3 separate regions of the Homo sapiens genome follow, and regions 1 and 3 are each linked to region 2. Evidence: fine-mapped expression QTL. A gene starts in region 2. Each other region holds a variant in brackets. All regions are shown on one strand. Distances are from middle to middle. Region 1 overlaps AFF1 (ALF transcription elongation factor 1). Region 2 holds the start of AFF1 (ALF transcription elongation factor 1). Region 3 overlaps AFF1 (ALF transcription elongation factor 1).

The links. PIP is the estimated chance that this variant, and not a neighbour inherited with it, causes the effect.
Region 1: its variant is fine-mapped to the expression of AFF1 in Th17 cells (Schmiedel 2018, PIP 0.95).
Region 3: its variant is fine-mapped to the expression of AFF1 in whole blood (INTERVAL, PIP above 0.99).

What each region holds. Positions count from the first base shown.
Region 1 is chr4:87,082,437-87,087,436 of GRCh38, reverse strand. AFF1 (ALF transcription elongation factor 1) reads right to left here. Exons shown (of 21, transcript NM_001166693.3): 5 at 3,273-3,317. Among named protein-coding and RNA genes, the nearest start is that of KLHL8, 140 kb to the left of the region's middle. The variant G/TATTG (reference allele first, on the strand shown) is at 2,887.
Region 2 is chr4:86,931,647-86,938,653 of GRCh38, reverse strand. It overlaps AFF1 (ALF transcription elongation factor 1), which reads right to left and starts at 3,643. Exons shown (of 21, transcript NM_001166693.3): 1 at 3,414-3,643. It overlaps AFF1-AS1 (AFF1 antisense RNA 1), which reads left to right and starts at 3,804. Exons shown (of 3, transcript NR_038841.1): 1 at 3,804-4,167; 2 at 5,112-5,259. It also overlaps a transcript of C4orf36 not described here. RefSeq lists enhancers at 2,209-2,328, 2,184-2,725, 2,726-3,267 and silencers at 2,580-2,718, 3,189-3,938.
Region 3 is chr4:86,957,045-86,962,044 of GRCh38, reverse strand. All of the region lies in intron 2 of AFF1 (ALF transcription elongation factor 1), which reads right to left. Among named protein-coding and RNA genes, the nearest start is that of AFF1, 25 kb to the right of the region's middle. RefSeq lists a silencer at 1,014-1,308 and enhancers at 1,481-2,152, 2,153-2,825, 3,535-4,118, 4,646-4,695. The variant A/G (reference allele first, on the strand shown) is at 2,538.

The DNA of each region.
Region 1 (5,000 bases), 150 kb before region 2:
TAATTGTTCCTCTAATACACCAACTTGATACCACCTCGAGGATTTTCCACCAGTTCTTCCCTCTGCCTAGCCTTCTGTTTACTGGCCTGTTGCATTATTCACAGCACCATCAACACCCAACACTATGTATTTCTCTTCCCTACTCTGATCTCCATGAAAGCAAGCACTCTGTCTTATTCACTACAACATCCTAGTGCTGTGGAGGCTTAACAAGTATTTGTTGAATAAACAAATGAACATATAAATAGTGCTACCACTCATTGTACTAGCATCATGGAAATGCTGCACTGAGGTAATGCTTGCTGGTACCACATTAATCCCCCAAGATACTGTGGAGGCCAGGCTTGCCTGTAAGTAGAAAATCTGAGGTGTCTCCATGCACCCACCAAGGGCATGTTGCCCTTTCTAGACCCTAGTGCATGACCATTCCCTGAAAACTAACAGTGTATGTCTGCTATCTTCTTACTCCATTAGCCTGCTGGAGTTATGGGCCACCACTTCCCCTTCATTACAACACTTCCCCCTTAAATACTGACCCCAGAGAACCAAACATTATCTTCTATGATTGATTTTCTCTGTTAGGAAACTACTTACTGCCTCTATCACCCATCAGAAAGATTTGTGTTTGGATTCCTGGCAATCTTAATAAATTGCTGGTACAAGATGAGAACGGGAACCGGGAGGCAAAGGAAAGTAGCATCTGGGTCAGCGTCAAGAGTAAGAGCTGGAATGGACCCTGGAGATCATCCGCTAGCCCAGGGCCTTCATTTTACCAATGAGGAAACCAAAGCCCAGCAGCGACCTATAACTTAACTGAGGTCACAGACAGAAGAGAAGGGGCAGACTCCAATATGAAAAGGCCTATGGCCTGTTCAGTCCTGGACGTCCTTCTGTTTGCTTTCCCAAGTTATGATTTCCAAATCATAAATGGGCATGATTTATACATTAACCACTCTCTCTCAAGCATTTCGAGGTAAGCAAGGATTCACTAACGTGATCCTGGGTGGGAAGGGAAGGAGGACGGATGGGTTCCTTCAATTAAAGATGCTTGTCTGGTGCTGTAATACCACCATTCCTAAATAAAGGATGTGACATGTCTTATTTCAACACACACCGAAACCTAAGAGGAGCATCTGACATATGCAGAAGACAACAAACCTGCACTGTTGCATTTACTTCTGAAATAATGATAGAACAAATAACGCACAATTTCAGAGGAAATGCCAAGGCCACAGTATATAATTAAATTCCTTAGTATGTTTACGACTTACCATACCAACAAATTTCAGAAACAGAAGAGGAAAAGGATGATAAAAAATGTAATCGAGGTAACTTATTTAATCTTACATGCTGGTTGACAAAAATTCCTCACTGTTAGCAGTTCAAAGTATGTTTCTCAGCCAGGTACGGTGGCTCACGCCTGTAATCCCAACACTTTGAGGGGCTGAGGCGGGTGGATCACTTGAGGTCAGGCATTTGAGACCAGCCTGGCCAAGATGGTGAAACACCGTCTCTACTAAAAATACAAAAATTAGCAGGGCGTACTGGCGCACACCTGTAATCCCGGCTACTTGGGTGGCTGAGGCACAAGAATCGCTTGAACCCAGGAGGTGGAGATTGCAGTGGCCAAGGTCACGCCCAGCCTGAGCGACAGAGAGAGACTCTGTCTCAAAAAAAAAAAAAAAGGTATGTTTCTCTAGAGGTTCTTTCTTTCTCAGAAAACCCTAACTACAAAATGGGACAAAAGACTGTGAAACAAAAACAAGCTGTTTTCCAAACAACTGGTTAGATACTACTACTGTCAAAAATTTCACAAGTGAGGAAATAACCAATATACTTAATTACTGGTTTTAGTACCACCATCACTTAATACTTTAAAATGAAAAGTTAAAAAACTAAAATTGAGTAAATGTATTTTGAGAAAATATGAGCAATAGTGATTCAAATTAACAGTCACATTTATTATATACATCTCTCTACTAATTAAAAAAAAAAAAGAAGAAAAAAGTCAGAAACCCTACAGTAAAAGACAAGAATATCATTAAAATTGACCTAGAAGCAAATTAAAGGCCACAGAAGAGGGATAAAAAATACACAAAACCCTCAGTTTTTACAATTACTGTACCTGAGCATTAAAATTAAGCTCTGGGTTTCCTGGAAATTAAAGGCAAAATGGGAAACATTATATATAATTCTTCTCTGATAAAAAGAAAGAATGCCAGTTCATGAGGAAAGTTAACATTTTTCCCCTGGAATTAAGTTCTAGAAGGAATCTGTCATCCTTGTACAAGAAAAATTGAACAAGTGGGTAATGTATTCAATGACATATTTGTGGAAGCACAAATGTTCATGGCATAGTTTCAATAAACAAAAGCAAAAAGTAATCCTTCAAGGTAAGTCTAAAGATGACCATCTACTTCCCACTATTTTTCTTTCATTCCTTTAAAATTTCATCGTCTCACTGAAGAAAAGGCTGTATGTATGAGGCCATAGGTATTAGGTATCACCTACAGAACGCCAAGAGGTATAAATCAAGCACTGTTTAACCACTGGTGCCTCCCACACATCAATACAGGAAGTTTCCTCTCTGGGAAGTGAGCAACTCTCCTGGGCCTTTATGGACAACCAGAAAAACTTAACGAGAGATGCCATAAAAATCTGGTCCAAATGTCTTGCAGTTTGTAGACTTCAATTTAATTAATAAAATCTGGTAGAGAATTCAATTACGTTCCAAGACTACTTCTGTTACTATTCTGGTTTATTTTTGCCTTTGGAGATGAGTGGGGGAGAAATGGTTAAAAGGGGTTTGGGAACAACAACTGTTCTTTATTTTTTATTTATTTATTTATTTATTTATTTATTTATTTATTTATTTATTTATTTATT[G/TATTG]GAGACATAGTTTCAACTCTGTTGCCCAGGCTGGAGTGCAGTGGCGTGATCTCAGCTCACAGCAGCCTCCACCTCTCGGGTTCAATCGAGTTCAGGAGGCCTGACTCAGCCTCCTGAGTAGCTGGGACTACAGGCATGTGCCACCACTCCTGGCTAATTTTTTGTATTTTTCTTAGTAGATACGGGGTTTTGCTATGTTGTCCAGGCTGGTCGTGAACTCCGGAGCTCAAGCAATCCGCCCACCTTGGCCTCCCAAAGTGCTAGGATTACAGGCATGAGCCACCGCACCCAGCCAATGGCAACTGTTCTTTAAAGTGAAAGTAAATGGATGTACGCCTACCTACTTAAATATTTCTTCAAATGAGAAAGATTAACAGTGAACTCACCTTCAGAATCTCTTCAACACAATGGACTTCATTGGAGTAGGTCTGCTGAAAGTGAAAAGCAAAAAATAAAAGGTTAGCAAACCAGAGTCAAGAGTGATGGTACTGGTGGATGACTGTATTAATGCAGCAATACTCATCTCAAGGCTTACCTTCTACTAGCTAAGTATTAAGAACTTTACATTTGAAGCCTGGGCAACATGGCAAAACCCCATTTCTACCAAAAGCAATATAAAAATTAGCCATGCATGGTGGTGCATGCCTGTGATCCCAGCTACTCAGGAGGTAGAGGCAGGAGGATCACATGAGCCAGGGAGGTGGAGGCTGCAGTGAGCCAAGATCATGCCACTGCACTCTGGCTGTATATATATAAAACAACAACAACTTTACATTTGGATGAAATAAGACCAGAGAGATTAATCTAACTGAATCTTGTGGGGAAACACAGTAATGATGGAGACAATGGCAGACTAACTGTTGACCCTCAGGTTAAAAGTTTCTAAAATTTCTTTATTAAAGAAAATTAGTATATTAGTAAACCTAGGGAATAAGAGATGTACAAAATAAGATTAGAATAGGTGCCACAGTCAGCTACCTCATAGCAACAGCTAACCAATAAGCCACATTAAATGAAGACAAAGATGATGATCATCTGAACACATTAGTGGGTCGAAAGTAAGGAGCTAAGTCCAATCAAGGATAACTCTTCATTATTTTTATATGCTAGCCTGCCAAAATTCATTTTAAAGTTAAAAATATCTCACTTAAAGTCAGCATTTCACTTTATACATACATGCATATATACATACACAGACGCACACAAAGTTTTTTTCAGAGAAAGACTGTAAGGGTAGAGGAGATTAATTATTGTCTTAGAGGAAAGATCTACTATTTCTACCTCTTCCTAATACCCAGCTAAACAAATAATGATTATTGCTGCTGCTGGTATCACCACCAGACAGTGCCTAGGGAATGACATTTTACAGTCTACATATTTTTAAGAGCAAAGAAAGTAGGCAAAGTTAAATTAAAATCAATTATTTTTTCTGAACTAGAGACATGGAACATATGGTTTTCAATGGAATAGCAACTTGCTCTGTGTCAATTCATGAGCCAGGCATCATGGGCACAGTACAGCAAGTACTATACAACATATGACTTTCCCATTACTGCCACTGCTATGCATAAAACTCTGCTCTTTTTGGTCCATTTAATACCTACCTCGCAGCTAGAGAACAGATGGCAAGGGGTTCTTTCCTGTTCTTGGTTCTAATTTATGTGTAATTTAATATAGAACTGGTTGCTAATTTGCAATCTAGGGTTTATTAATCTACCATTTCCCTCATTCCAATTCACTCCATGGATGAAGAAAAAGGAAATAGAGCATACAAACATTCACACCGTCCTGTAATTGAATCTAATGTCAAAATTCAGATGTAGGCCAGGTGTGCTGGCTCACACCTGTAATCCCAGCACTTTGGGAGGCCGAGGCGGGCAGATTGCCTGAGCCCAGGAGTCTGAGAGCAGCCTGGGCATCATGGCAAAACCCCATCTCTACCAAAAATACAAAAATTAGCCAGTCTCGTAACCCAGTTTCAAAACAGACAAAAATTTAAAAATAAAATTTAAAAATTAAAAAAAAATTCAGATGCAGTCTGTTTTTAAAACATGTAAATTTCCTGGAAAGAGTCTTGAAGTCAGGTATAACCAAAGAGAATCAAGGGTGTCCCT
Region 2 (7,007 bases):
ATTTTAAAATCTAAGATCCAAATCAACACTATTAAATAAGCTTCTACTGTGTCTTAAAAAAAGAGACTACTAGAAAGCAACTGCCAATTAAACTTCAGAAACCATTGTTGAATTTATTATTTGAGGAAAATATCACTAATCAAACTCTGTATATTTATGGTAAATACACTTACTTTTTTCCTTTTCTTTTTTTTTTTTTTTTTTGAGACGGAGTCTTGCTCTGTGGCCCAGGCTGGAGTGCAGCAGTGCAATCTCGGCTCACTGCAACCTCCGCCTCCTGGGTTCAAGCGACTTTCCTGCCTTAGCCTCCCGAGGAAGCGTAATTACAGGAGCACGCCATCATGCCCAGCTACTTTTTGTATTTTTAGTAGAGATGGGGTTTCCCCATATTGGTCAGGCTGGTCCAGAACCGCTGACCTCAAGTGATCCGCTCGCCTCAGCCTCCCAAAGTGTTGGGATTACAGGCGTGAGCCACCACACCTGGCCCCAATGAGGTTCCTTAATTTGCACTCTCTCTAACATACTTTCTCAATCTCCCAAAAAATTAGTTAATGGTCTAGAGCCTTGAAATAAAGGAACTTTGGGCCCACAAATTACAGAGTTGAACATAGAACTCCTTCCATCAGCTTTTCAAAAAATATTGAAAACAAGTTTACCCTTTCTAAGCTCAATTTTTTCACCCCTCTTTTCAACTTTCAAGGCAATATGAAACTTCAACTAAACAATCACCTGGCTAAAGTGACTTGTAGGCCAGGCACGGTGGCTTCCACCTGTAATCTCAGCACTTGAGGAGGCAAAAGTGGGAGGACTGCTTGAGCCAGGAGTTCAAGACCCACCTGGGTAACATAGGGAGCCCCCCACCCCCACCCCCACCCCAAGCCATCTCTACCAAAAGATTTTTTAAATTAGCCGGGCATGGTGGCATATGCTTGTAATCCCAGCTATTTGGGAGGCTGAGGAGGGAGGATCCCATGAGCCCAGGAGTTGGAGGTTGCAGTGAGCTATGATCGTGCCACCGCACTCCAGCCTAAGTGACAGAGTGAGAACCTGTCTCAAAAATAAATAAAGTGACTTGTAAAGGTGCCTGATAAATATATATGTATTTTAATTGAATAGTCTCTTCCAAATTTAATCCAAAACCTAATTAAGCAAGTTCTCAGTCAATTAAAAAAGTAACTTTCACCTCAACCAGCTCTGCAAAATTCAGTTAAACCGGAGAGGAAACAGAAGAGACAGCTAGTTTTGATATAGTCTTATTACCCTATAGTAGATTAGTGATTCTGGTGGCAAAAAATGCATGCCTGTTACGCATGTAGGAGAAAGCAATGTTTACAATGGCCTGGACTTTTGTCATAAATTTTCAATCTCTAAATGATCTTTGTATTCTAATTTAACACACTGTGATTCTTCAAAATTATAGTTTTGCAAAGTTGAAGAGTTAAGCAAATGCCAAAGCCACAAATTCAATTGTTACAGTGAATAAGGCAGATTAATATTTAACAGTTCATTTTCTTGCAGGTGAAAAGCAAAGAATTCACAGCAACATACCTGCAAGTCTCACATCTCCAGCCTCAACATCCTTGTAAGTTATATTTGAAAAAAGAAAAGTCTCCAATATCTAAACTCATTTTCCCCAAAAGTCCCACTCTTCAATCTCTATTTGTCTCAAAGTGACCAAATCTATCCCAAATTATTTCCTTGGTTCTTTCTCTCCATAAAAATGGCTTAATTCCAGTGAGTTTCTCTAGTTTTACGTACTACTTATGTATTTTGTTGCTTTCTCTCATCTCCCCTTGGATCATTTTCCTTTAGTTCTCACCACTGCTTTTCTCCATATTTATCTTCAAATATTCAAGTACAATACTTCCCAACATCCACAAGAGACAACACCTTGAAATTAAAGCAAGCAAACCATCCAGAATTTTCCATTCTCCTGTGAATCTACTTCCGGAATATCCACTCAAGTAATCCTTCCCACTAAAGATGAAAGGCGAGCTAAGGAAATACATTAGACAGAGGAAGTAAACACTGAAACAGGGCCATGCCTAGGTATTCTTCGGCCCCAAAGAAAAAAAACTAGACTCTGGGTCCAAAGGTCTTTTTCGTGACTTTTATCCCCACCCAGAGGCCAACACCACGCAGGTCTGAGAGAGGTAACCCACGGCCACCTACCTTCTACACACACCGCACGACCTTGCTCTGAAATAATCTTGCACAAGCAAAATTCTCCACGCCTCTCAGACTCCTACCTAACGTTTCTGTGCTTCAGTTTCTGAGCTCTTCTCACTTTGCAACTGTCCCAGGGAACACTGGGTCTTCGCCTTAATTTACAAGTTTGCACTGAAGGTTTTAAATCAGTCTGATTTCCCCGTGGTGAGTCACACCCCGCAACGTGCACCAAGGGGGAGGGTGTTTAAAATTATCTCCGGCTCCACCCTTAAAACAAATCACTTGGCTGCAAGGCCTTTCCCCCTAACAGAGACTGGTTCAAGGGAGATTCGGACACATCTCCACCTCCAAAGCCAAGTGCCTTCCCGGGATGATCTGCATAACAATTTGCGGGTGCTGGTGGTGGAGAAGCTCCGGGAAGAGAAAACTAGCCGGACGGTATCGAACCGCCCGCAGGCCCGTCGCAGCTCCATTAATGCAACTACCATTACACTAAGGTAACGTGTGATTCACACTCTCCACCTTCTCTCCCCTCTCATTCGCTGGCTCCGGCGCTCGCACCGTCGGAGGGTGGGGTTGCGACGGCCACAGAGGATGGGACACCCGAGGGAAAAAAGCATTATCAAGAGAAATTAACCAGTCCCATACTAAAGACGCCTCTCCCTCTGTCCCTGAAGTTAAGTCTCAGAAGGTGGCTCCAACTCCTCCCCGGAGGCTACGGACCACCGACACACGCCTCCCTCCTGCTCTCAGCGAGACGCGGCGGGAAGCCCTCATCTCTCTCCACGACAGGCACAGGGAAGGGTCCCGGGGTGCAGGAGAGAAGAACCCCACTTTTCCCCGCCCCCTCCCCCCGAGAAACTTCTGGGACTCATTACGCAACTCAAGTAGCAGGTCCCAACAACGGGACAGCTCTCCGCAAAACGCGGGGTGCACAGGCAAACGTCTGACTTGGGGGCTGCGCGTGAGGGAGGAGCATGGGTCTCTTCCCATGTCCCCGTCCCCTGTTTTTCTACGCGCTACCTGCCGCGGGATCGCAAGTAGGGCGGTGAGAGCTCTGAGCCCTAGCCCGTTCTCCCCGAGGGCTCCCACCGGAAAAGTGGGAACGCCAGCGACTTGAGTCAGCGTGCTGGGAAGCCGGCAGAGAGGCGGGGAGAGCCTCGGCTTCCGAGAAGTCCGCGGCGGCGGCGTCGGGGGCCGGGCGGATCGACCCCCAGCCCTGGGTGGCGCAGGGCTGCGCTCACCTTCCAGACCCTTCCGTCCTCTAGTCCCGGGTCGGGCGCCCTCGTCACCTCCGCCCTCCCCTGACCTGTTGCGGTGGGAAAGGGCGCAAGTGCGGACGACGCAGGGGAGCGCCTCCTCCCGGGGCTCGGCTGCGGAACCGCGGAGGCAAAGGTGCAGCTGCGGCCGCAACGCGCGCAGGCGGCGGCCGAGTGCGCAGGGGCCGCGCGCGCCCGTCGCTCGCTAGCTGGCTGGCAAGCTCAGCACGCCGGCTGCCCGGGACGCCCCGAGGCCACGCCCTCCGCGCGAGGCCCCGCCCCCACCCCCACCTCCCGAGCTGCGGTACCGGGTTCCGCCCCGGCCCGCGCCCTCTAGCTGGCGCCACCCAAGCGGCAAGGGACGTCGCGGCCCTCCCGGGATTGGTGGGAGGATCGTGGGGGAGCGGCAGCTCAGGACGGAATACGGCAATGACCGCCCCGGTCGCGAGGGTGACCCTGCCCCGGGCTGCTGTGGGGGCGCAAGAACCCTTTCACTTTACGGCGAGATTAAGCTCAGGGTCAAGTTCTGAGCAAAAAGTGTCAAGGAGCCTTTTTGCAACCTCCTATAATATTGAAACAGATTCTGTGCCCTTTAAAGGAGATAATAACTAACATCTGGGGAGCGCTTTACAATTTAGAAAAGGCCTTTCACACACAGGCCTGTTTCATCTTCACAACAATCTTATAAAACAGATATATTGTTCCCATTTCCCAAATAATGAAACGGAAGCGCCGAAAAGTAAGTATTGTGCTCAATGTCACAGGCTACTAAGTGGCATGGGAAACCAGGTCTCCTGAATCTAGCCTCCGGGTTTCTGCTCTCCACCAGCCCAACCTCAGAAAATTCTAATAGGTGCAGGGGGCTTTGGCAAATAGACCCATGGGAAGAAGGGGAAACTTATGTCTAGTTAAGTCGCTGCCCGATTCCTGCTGTAAACATACCAAGGAAAGCAACAGGCTGTCTTCATTGTGTTGTCGCACCTTCCTTCCTGAAAGGGACGCAGAAAGATTACATCAAATGGCCCAGATGAGATTTCGCCGACAGTATTTTATGGTTTAAAATGGGTGAAATTATTTGGATGAAGAAAAGCGCCTTACTTAAATTTAATATGATGTGTAATGTAAATTGGTATAATGTGTGAAAATAAGCCCCTCCCTGCCTTCTCTGCCTTTTCTCTTTTTAATTTTGTTTGTCTCTACTGCTCTGCTCAACTCTTTTATTGTCCACATAATTGAAAACCTAATTGATGGATATTTGCATTTCCAAATTAAACCTTTGGCTACTTGACTTAATTTCCCATGGATTGTTTTCCAAAATATAACTCTTCGCCCTACTCCATATCCTCCCATCGGGAGATTGGTTTACCTAGACAGCTAAAATAATTAAGGTGTCCCTGATGAAACCTGGTGGTGTATCTATCTAAGATGAAAGTTCTGGTCATCCCTGAGCAGGATGGGACAGGAGTCATCTCTTACAAAGTGTTTGTACACCTTTTAAAGGTTTCTAACAGAGACTGATCTCTATTCTAATCAATAACAAGTATTTTAACGTTTTTGCTATATAATGAATACATTTCATTGTGAAATATATATTAGCATGGTAATATTTTATAATCTGAAAACTTTTACCACTTCTATCTAAAATGTTTTCCTTTTTTGTGTTCTTTTTGTGTCATCCCATAGTATCTCCTATAGGGCTCTTCAAACTGTGGTCAACTTAGTAAATGATGTTGACAGTGGAAGTGTGATCATTTTATTTTCCTGCCTTTGGAATTGAAGATTGTAATTTTGCAAAAATTTTGTTGAAGATGATGTAGCTTTGGTTCAGAGAGTAAGTCATTCCATTTATATCAATATTCTTAAGGCAATGTGCTAGGTGACGAGCCATATTGATGACAAAGACAGAGCTCCTATTTTCATGACATTCCAGTGTGGTGGCAGAAACAAGCAAGTAAATAATTCCAGTACACACTTCTGTTGATTTATTTCGTGAATGGTGACTGGCTATTTAAAAAGACTAAATCAAATTAATTTTCTGATAATGAATAAAAAAGGATAGCCATGCCAGTGAGTTATTATTATTTTTTAAGTTGCCTTTCTCTCTCTTCTGCTGGTCATCTTATATAAATAGTCAATAAGAAGGCTATTTTAAAAAGTGATTACACTATATCTACTTTAAAAAATTTTTTATATCTACTTTTTAAATTTCAGACATAAACAAAAGGAGAGTAATTATGTAATGGAGTTGCAGATATTTAACTTTGTTAGCTACACTTTCCTCCATCATCTTCCTTACAAGAATTCTTAAATTACATTTTTAGCACACTCAATGAAATTCCAGCACTTTCTTAATTTTGACAACCTAATCTCATACATTTCAGATTATGTTTCTAATAAGATGAAGCATGTTTCTGACATCGGTGCTTTTTTTTTTTTTTAACAGAACCCCCCCACCCCCCCAAATAAATCTCCCTTTTAAATATGATGATGGGACTTTTTAGGTGCTTCTTCATATGAGGGCTCCTGGGATGTTACCTGACAATTTTCAGCCATGATTTTACTTAAAATTTAAAAACAAATTAGTTAAACCCCTGGGACTCATAGAAGCTCACAGGATGTATTCTCAGAGCACCTAAACAGCCCATGAGGAGGGAAGACAACATTAAGATAGAGGCAGGTGAGGAATGTGCCCAGCATCACAACATGGACAACTGTTTGGTCAAACTGAAGTACTTCTAAACTCTGCAGTTGTGCAAGATCCAAGCATTTTAAGCCAGCAGTTTAAATTATGTTCCTCCAAATGACTGCATGTATATCTCAAAGGGCATTAACTTATTCTCGCAAAGTATATAAATAAATCTTTTTTTTTTTTTTTTTTGATATGAAGTTTCACTCTTGTTCCCCAGGCTGGAGTACAATGGCACCATCTCAGCTCGCCGCAACCTCCACCTCCTGGGTTCAAGCGATTCTCCTGCCTCAGCCTCCCGAGTAGCTGGGATTACAGGTATGCGCCACCATGCCCTGCTAATTTTGTATTTTTAGTAGAGACGGGTGTTTCTCCATGTTGGTCAGGCTGGTCTCGAACTCCGGACCTCAGGTTATCTGCCCATCTTCGCCTCCTAAAGTGCTGGGATTACAGGCGTGAGCCACCACGCCCGGAATAAATCTTTTTTTTTTTTTTTTTTCTTTTTGAGACAGAGTCTCGCTCTATTGCCCAGGCTGGAGTGCAATGGTGCAATCTCGGCTCACTGCAAGCTCCGTCTCCCGGGTTCACGCCATTCTCCTGCCTCAGCCTCCTGAGTAGCTGGGACTACAGGCGCCTGCCACCACGCCCGGCCAATTTTTTGTATTTTTAGTAGAGACGGAGTTTCACCATGTTAGACAGGATGGTCTCAATCTCCTGACCTCGTGATCCACCCGCCTCGGCCTCCCAAAGTGCTGGGATTACAGGCGTGAGCCACCACACCTGGCGGAACAAATAAATCTTAACCTGAGCATATACTTATGATTAAAAATAGAATAAAATAAGGCCAGGCACTGTGATCACGTTCAGAATCCCAGCACGTTGGGAGGATGAGG
Region 3 (5,000 bases), 24 kb before region 2:
TTAAAAAACATATATTTTAGACAAATAAAATATAGTCTCCACTCTCATTTATTGAATACTCTGTCCTACTGGAAAATTAAACCTCCATTCTTAAAGGACAATTTCATATCTCGTTTACCAAGTGCTCTGCGGGGGACAGTAAGCCTCTGCCGGATGTAGAAAGATAATCTAAAACGAGAACTGCTACAACTTCTAACCGTTGAGAGGTTGATTTATTAACAGGGCAGCCACCTGACATCTGTGCAATGCTGTAACAGACCACAAAGTGCTCTGAGAGAGCACACATCATCTCACCACGGCGATGAAAAGGGCTCTGAAACGCAAACTGGGGAGATTCTAATTTAGGATGGGAACCACCTCCATTCCTTAATTTTTTTTTTTTTGGGTAACTAATCTTTTCATCTTTTTCCTGCCATATGACTCAGTAGTGACCCCTATTCCCATCACTCAGCCCCCCCTTCCCACACCCCCACTATGCCCCAGTGCAAAGAAATCAGCTTTGTTCCTTCACTGGAAAAGATGCACGTTTCTCTGACTACTGTAGCCATGCTGAAACTATCTCCCAGGAACAACTTTTTATCTCATTCATGTCAAAAAAGAAGAGTCAGCTAGAGGGGATCTGTGGCCCAAAACTCAGAGTTTTAAACCAGAGCTCAGAAAGTATATCCCTGCCACCAGCTTCTACAAAGACAAAAAGGGAACAGGGACTTGAGGGTTCGGTGATGGAAGGAAGCTAGCCACTGATGAGTATCTTCCTTTTCCCTTTTTCATCTGTAAAACATAACCTCATAGGGAGTTACGAGATTGAAAGCATGCCTATCAAATACTTAGCACAGGTCTCGTCTGGTCACTGCGCTTATTAAATATTTTCATGGGTATCTGTACTCATGAAGGCAGGGTTAACTGGTGGTGTCTCCCACATTCTCACCATTCTGATATCAAAGGGGAATGGAAGGCCTTCAATACTCTCATCTGTAGTTGGAAATATTTCATCTGGAGGATAGCTTGTCTCTGTCAACCATCCAGGGATGCTGTGCTCCTTGCCAGCTGTGACCTCTGCTCCTTTCTCAAGTCTTACAACTTGCTTGGAAGATAGGCTCAGAAGGTGATTACTAAACATGTGGAAAGTCAGTAAACACATTAGAATTCTTGGGTGCCCAGTGCCTTACCAGTTCCACTCAGGTTACAAAGGGCAGTCTCTGACCTCCAGTTGTTTAAAATCTGGTAGGGCTTGGACTGACTGCAACAGAGGAGCCAAGTGGAAAAACAGCAAGAGATAAGCTTGGTGGGGAGCTGACTACACAACGAGAGTTTACTGAAGGTAGGCCTTAACTGCAAGCTGAATTTAGGCAGCAATTTGCAATCTTAATCCCATAAAATGTTGTACTATTTTTAGTAGCATTGCTTTCAACACCATAAAGTATGCACATACTTTAGTTTTGGTTAAACGTTTTGATCATACTCAAAGCCTTGTAACTACACAAATATAAAGAAATACTATCTTTAAACTCTAAAACCACTGCCTTTGGACTTCTTTTACAAAGAGCTAAGAATTTACTTAAAAACGGACCTTTTTCTACACTGCACAGGAATAAAGGAGTTTTCCTCCTGATGTCGGGTGGGAAAAGGAGTAAAGGAGCCCTCAGTCTCCTGAGAGGAGCAGCACTCAGAAATTCTGCCCTGTTCCACTTTACTGTAACAACGCAGCGGAACCCACTGCACTTCAATTCTCAACACATGCAGGATACCTGCTGGGCCGTCCTAGGCACAGCATTTTTCCAGTAGTGTTTGAGATTCAGGGTAAATCCTGGGTAACAGCGGCAGCTCCCTTGTAACCTTAAAGAAAGATCTTTTCCAGTGTGAACAGTCAAAATTCAAACGAAGAGCAGCCCCATGCTCACCACTAGGAAACCCTGTTTTCCTTTAATTAAAAAAAAATGTAGAGGTCATCCCTCAGCTTTGTTTACAAGTAATGAGTCCAGCAGCCCCCATTTATCACCCCTGGAGATTCTTTTACACTTTGATGTGAAAAGAGTCAGGGCCCATTGTGATTTCAACTACTCCAACAGCAGTCCTTTCATTTGCAAACGAGGCCCTGGCCCCCAGTTAGAACCAACTGTCAGAAAAAAATTCATTGCCTTTCCTTCCAATTATTTATCAGAGACAGAGAAGAGAAGCTGGCTTTAAGACATCGCTCAAGAAAAGGTTCCCAGCACACCCCTAATGCATTCCTTACCTTCCCTGGTTCTTTCAGCCCAGAATGCCCCTTTCCCAAATTCCACAGCTCATGAAAGCCAACCTCTGCTTTCAAACCATCCCATCTGGAATGACTTTCTCCTTTCAGCTTTACACAAAACCCAAGTGGCCTAACGTTACTTATCGTTTAGGTGTCCCTCCCTTAGGGCAACTCTGCAATTTTCTGCAGAGCAAGGAAAGTACCAGCACTCTGACTTCCCTAACAGACACTCAACCATCCCAACAATGAGTTCAAAAGGCACCCATTTTTTCCCCCATCTCTACCAGTCTCTCACATTGGG[A/G]AAAAAAAAAAAAAAAGAGTATTAAGGAACTTTAAAAGGGAGTGAGGCTTTAAAGATTTATTCAACTATTTAAGAAGTGTGAAGTAGCAGACAAAAAGAGGAAGGGACCCAACACAATAAAGAGGTTTCTTTTTTTAATGTAAACTTTTAAAATTAAAAATAACACACATTTTTTAAAGTGTAGAGCTCACATATAAATTTTCACAAAATGATATACTCTTGTAACCAACACCCAGATCAAAACAGAATACCGGCACTCCTGGGCAATTTAACTATTTTAAGCAAAAAGAGTTATCTTGACTCTAACCAAGCTTTTAGTGCTAACTTCCATTCTTCAGGAAATACATGGGATAGGCTGACAGTTTCTCAATCTCAGCACTATTGACATTAGAAACCAGGAAATTATTTGTGGTGGGGGCTGTTCTGTGCATTGTAGATGTTTAATAACATCCCTGGCCTCTACTCACTAGATTGTGATGACTAAAAATCTCTCTAGACATTGTCAAATGTCCCCTGGAAGAGAGGGAGACAAAATTGTCCTCCGTTGAGAACTACTGCTATATCGAAACAAGTTAAACGCATTAATAGGAAACAAACAAATCCAAGAAGTAGGACATACATGCAACTGTTTCCTTAACTAGTAAATGCTCCCACCCCACAAGTAAATAGAGTAAATGCTGCTCTGGATTAAGACTCAAGAAACAAAACCTAATGCAATATGTGAACTTTGGTTTCCTTGGATCAAGATGAAGACAATTTTATTATTTATTATTTATTTTATTTTATTTTTTTGAGAGAGTCTTACTCTGTCTCCCAGGCTGGAGTGCAGTGGCACAATCTCGGCTCACTGCAACCTCTGCCTCCTGGGTTGAAGTGGTTCGCCTGCCTCAGCCTCCCGAGTAGCTGGGACTACAGGCACGTACCACCACACCCGGCTAATTTTTTATTTTCAGTAGAGACGGGGTTTCACCATGTAGGTCAGGCTGGTCTCGAACTCCTGACCCTCAGGTGATTTACCCACCGTGGCCTCCCAAAATGCTGGAATTACAGGCATGAGCCACCGCACCTGGCTAAAAACAATTTTAAAAGACATTTTAAAACAATCTAGAAAGTTTGGGGCCGGGCACGGTGACTCACGCCTGTAATCCCAGCACTTTGGGAGGCTGAGTTGGGCAGATCACTTGAGGTCAGGAGTTTGAGACCAGCCTAACATGGTGAAACCCCGTTTCTACTAAAAATACAAAAAATTAGCCAGGCATGGTGATGTGCACCTGTAATCTCAGCTACTCGGGAGGCTGAGGCAGAAGAATTGCTTGAACCTGAGAGGTGGAAGTTGCAGTGAGCCCAGATGGCACCACTGCACTCCAGCTTGGGCAACAAGAGTGAAACTCCGTTTCAAAAAAAAAAAAAAAAAAAGGAAAAAAAAAGAAAAAGTTCAGAGATAGACTAGGTATTAGACGAATCCAAGATGTTAATTTTATTAGGTGTGAGACGGGTATGTATTTAAGTAGGGAAATGTCCATATATTTTTAGAGATGCACATAAAGTATGAAGAAGTGAAATGGAATTTGCTTTAAAATAGTTCAGCAAAGAAAAAGAGGAAAAAGGATAGTTGTTTGTTTGTTTTTTTAAGTATGGCAAAATCAGGCTAGGCGCAGTGGCTCAGGGCTGGGCATGGTGGCTCACGCCTGTAATCCCAGCACTTTGGGAGGCTGAGGTGGGAGGATCACCTGAGGTCAGGAGTTTGAGACCAGCCTGGCCAACATGGTGAAACCCTGTCTCTATTAAAAATAAAAAATTAGCCAGGTGTGGTGGCATGCACCTGTAGTCCCAGATACTTGGGAGGCTGGGGCAGGAGAATTGCTTGAACCCAAGAGGCAGAGGTTGCAGTGAGCGGAGATCACAACACTGCACTCCAGCCTGGGCAACAGAGTGAGATTCCATCTCAAGAAAAAAGAAAAAAAAATTTCCAACCAAAAATGAACTAGTTGCCCCAGCATTCCCCACAGTCTGATTCACATACTCAGCTATGAAGGTCTCTCCAGGCTTTTGCTTTCTCCAGTAAAATTAGGCTACTGATATGAATACCTTACAGAGCATAGAAAACATGACTCAGATTTTGAAATAATGGTTCCCCAGCTTCTGCAAAACAGGAGAAACTGGAACTGAAATTCTCTTCTTCCTAAAGTAGGCTGACTAGTATGGCTTCAGAAGAAAAGTACTGTTATAATGGAAGGCCTCCAGAAAGAAAAATGGTTCTTTCCCACATCAAGACAGTATAAAATTAGTATCCCTACAAAGACAATGTTATCCCCAGCAATTCAACTCAGTGTTCATCTTATCTACCACCTGGACCAAGTTTAGCACCTAAAATGATATAATGCCAAATGCCTGGACTAGTGTCCACTATACTGAAGGCACAAAATAATTATTAATATTAATTCATTCTCCTCCAACTCTCAG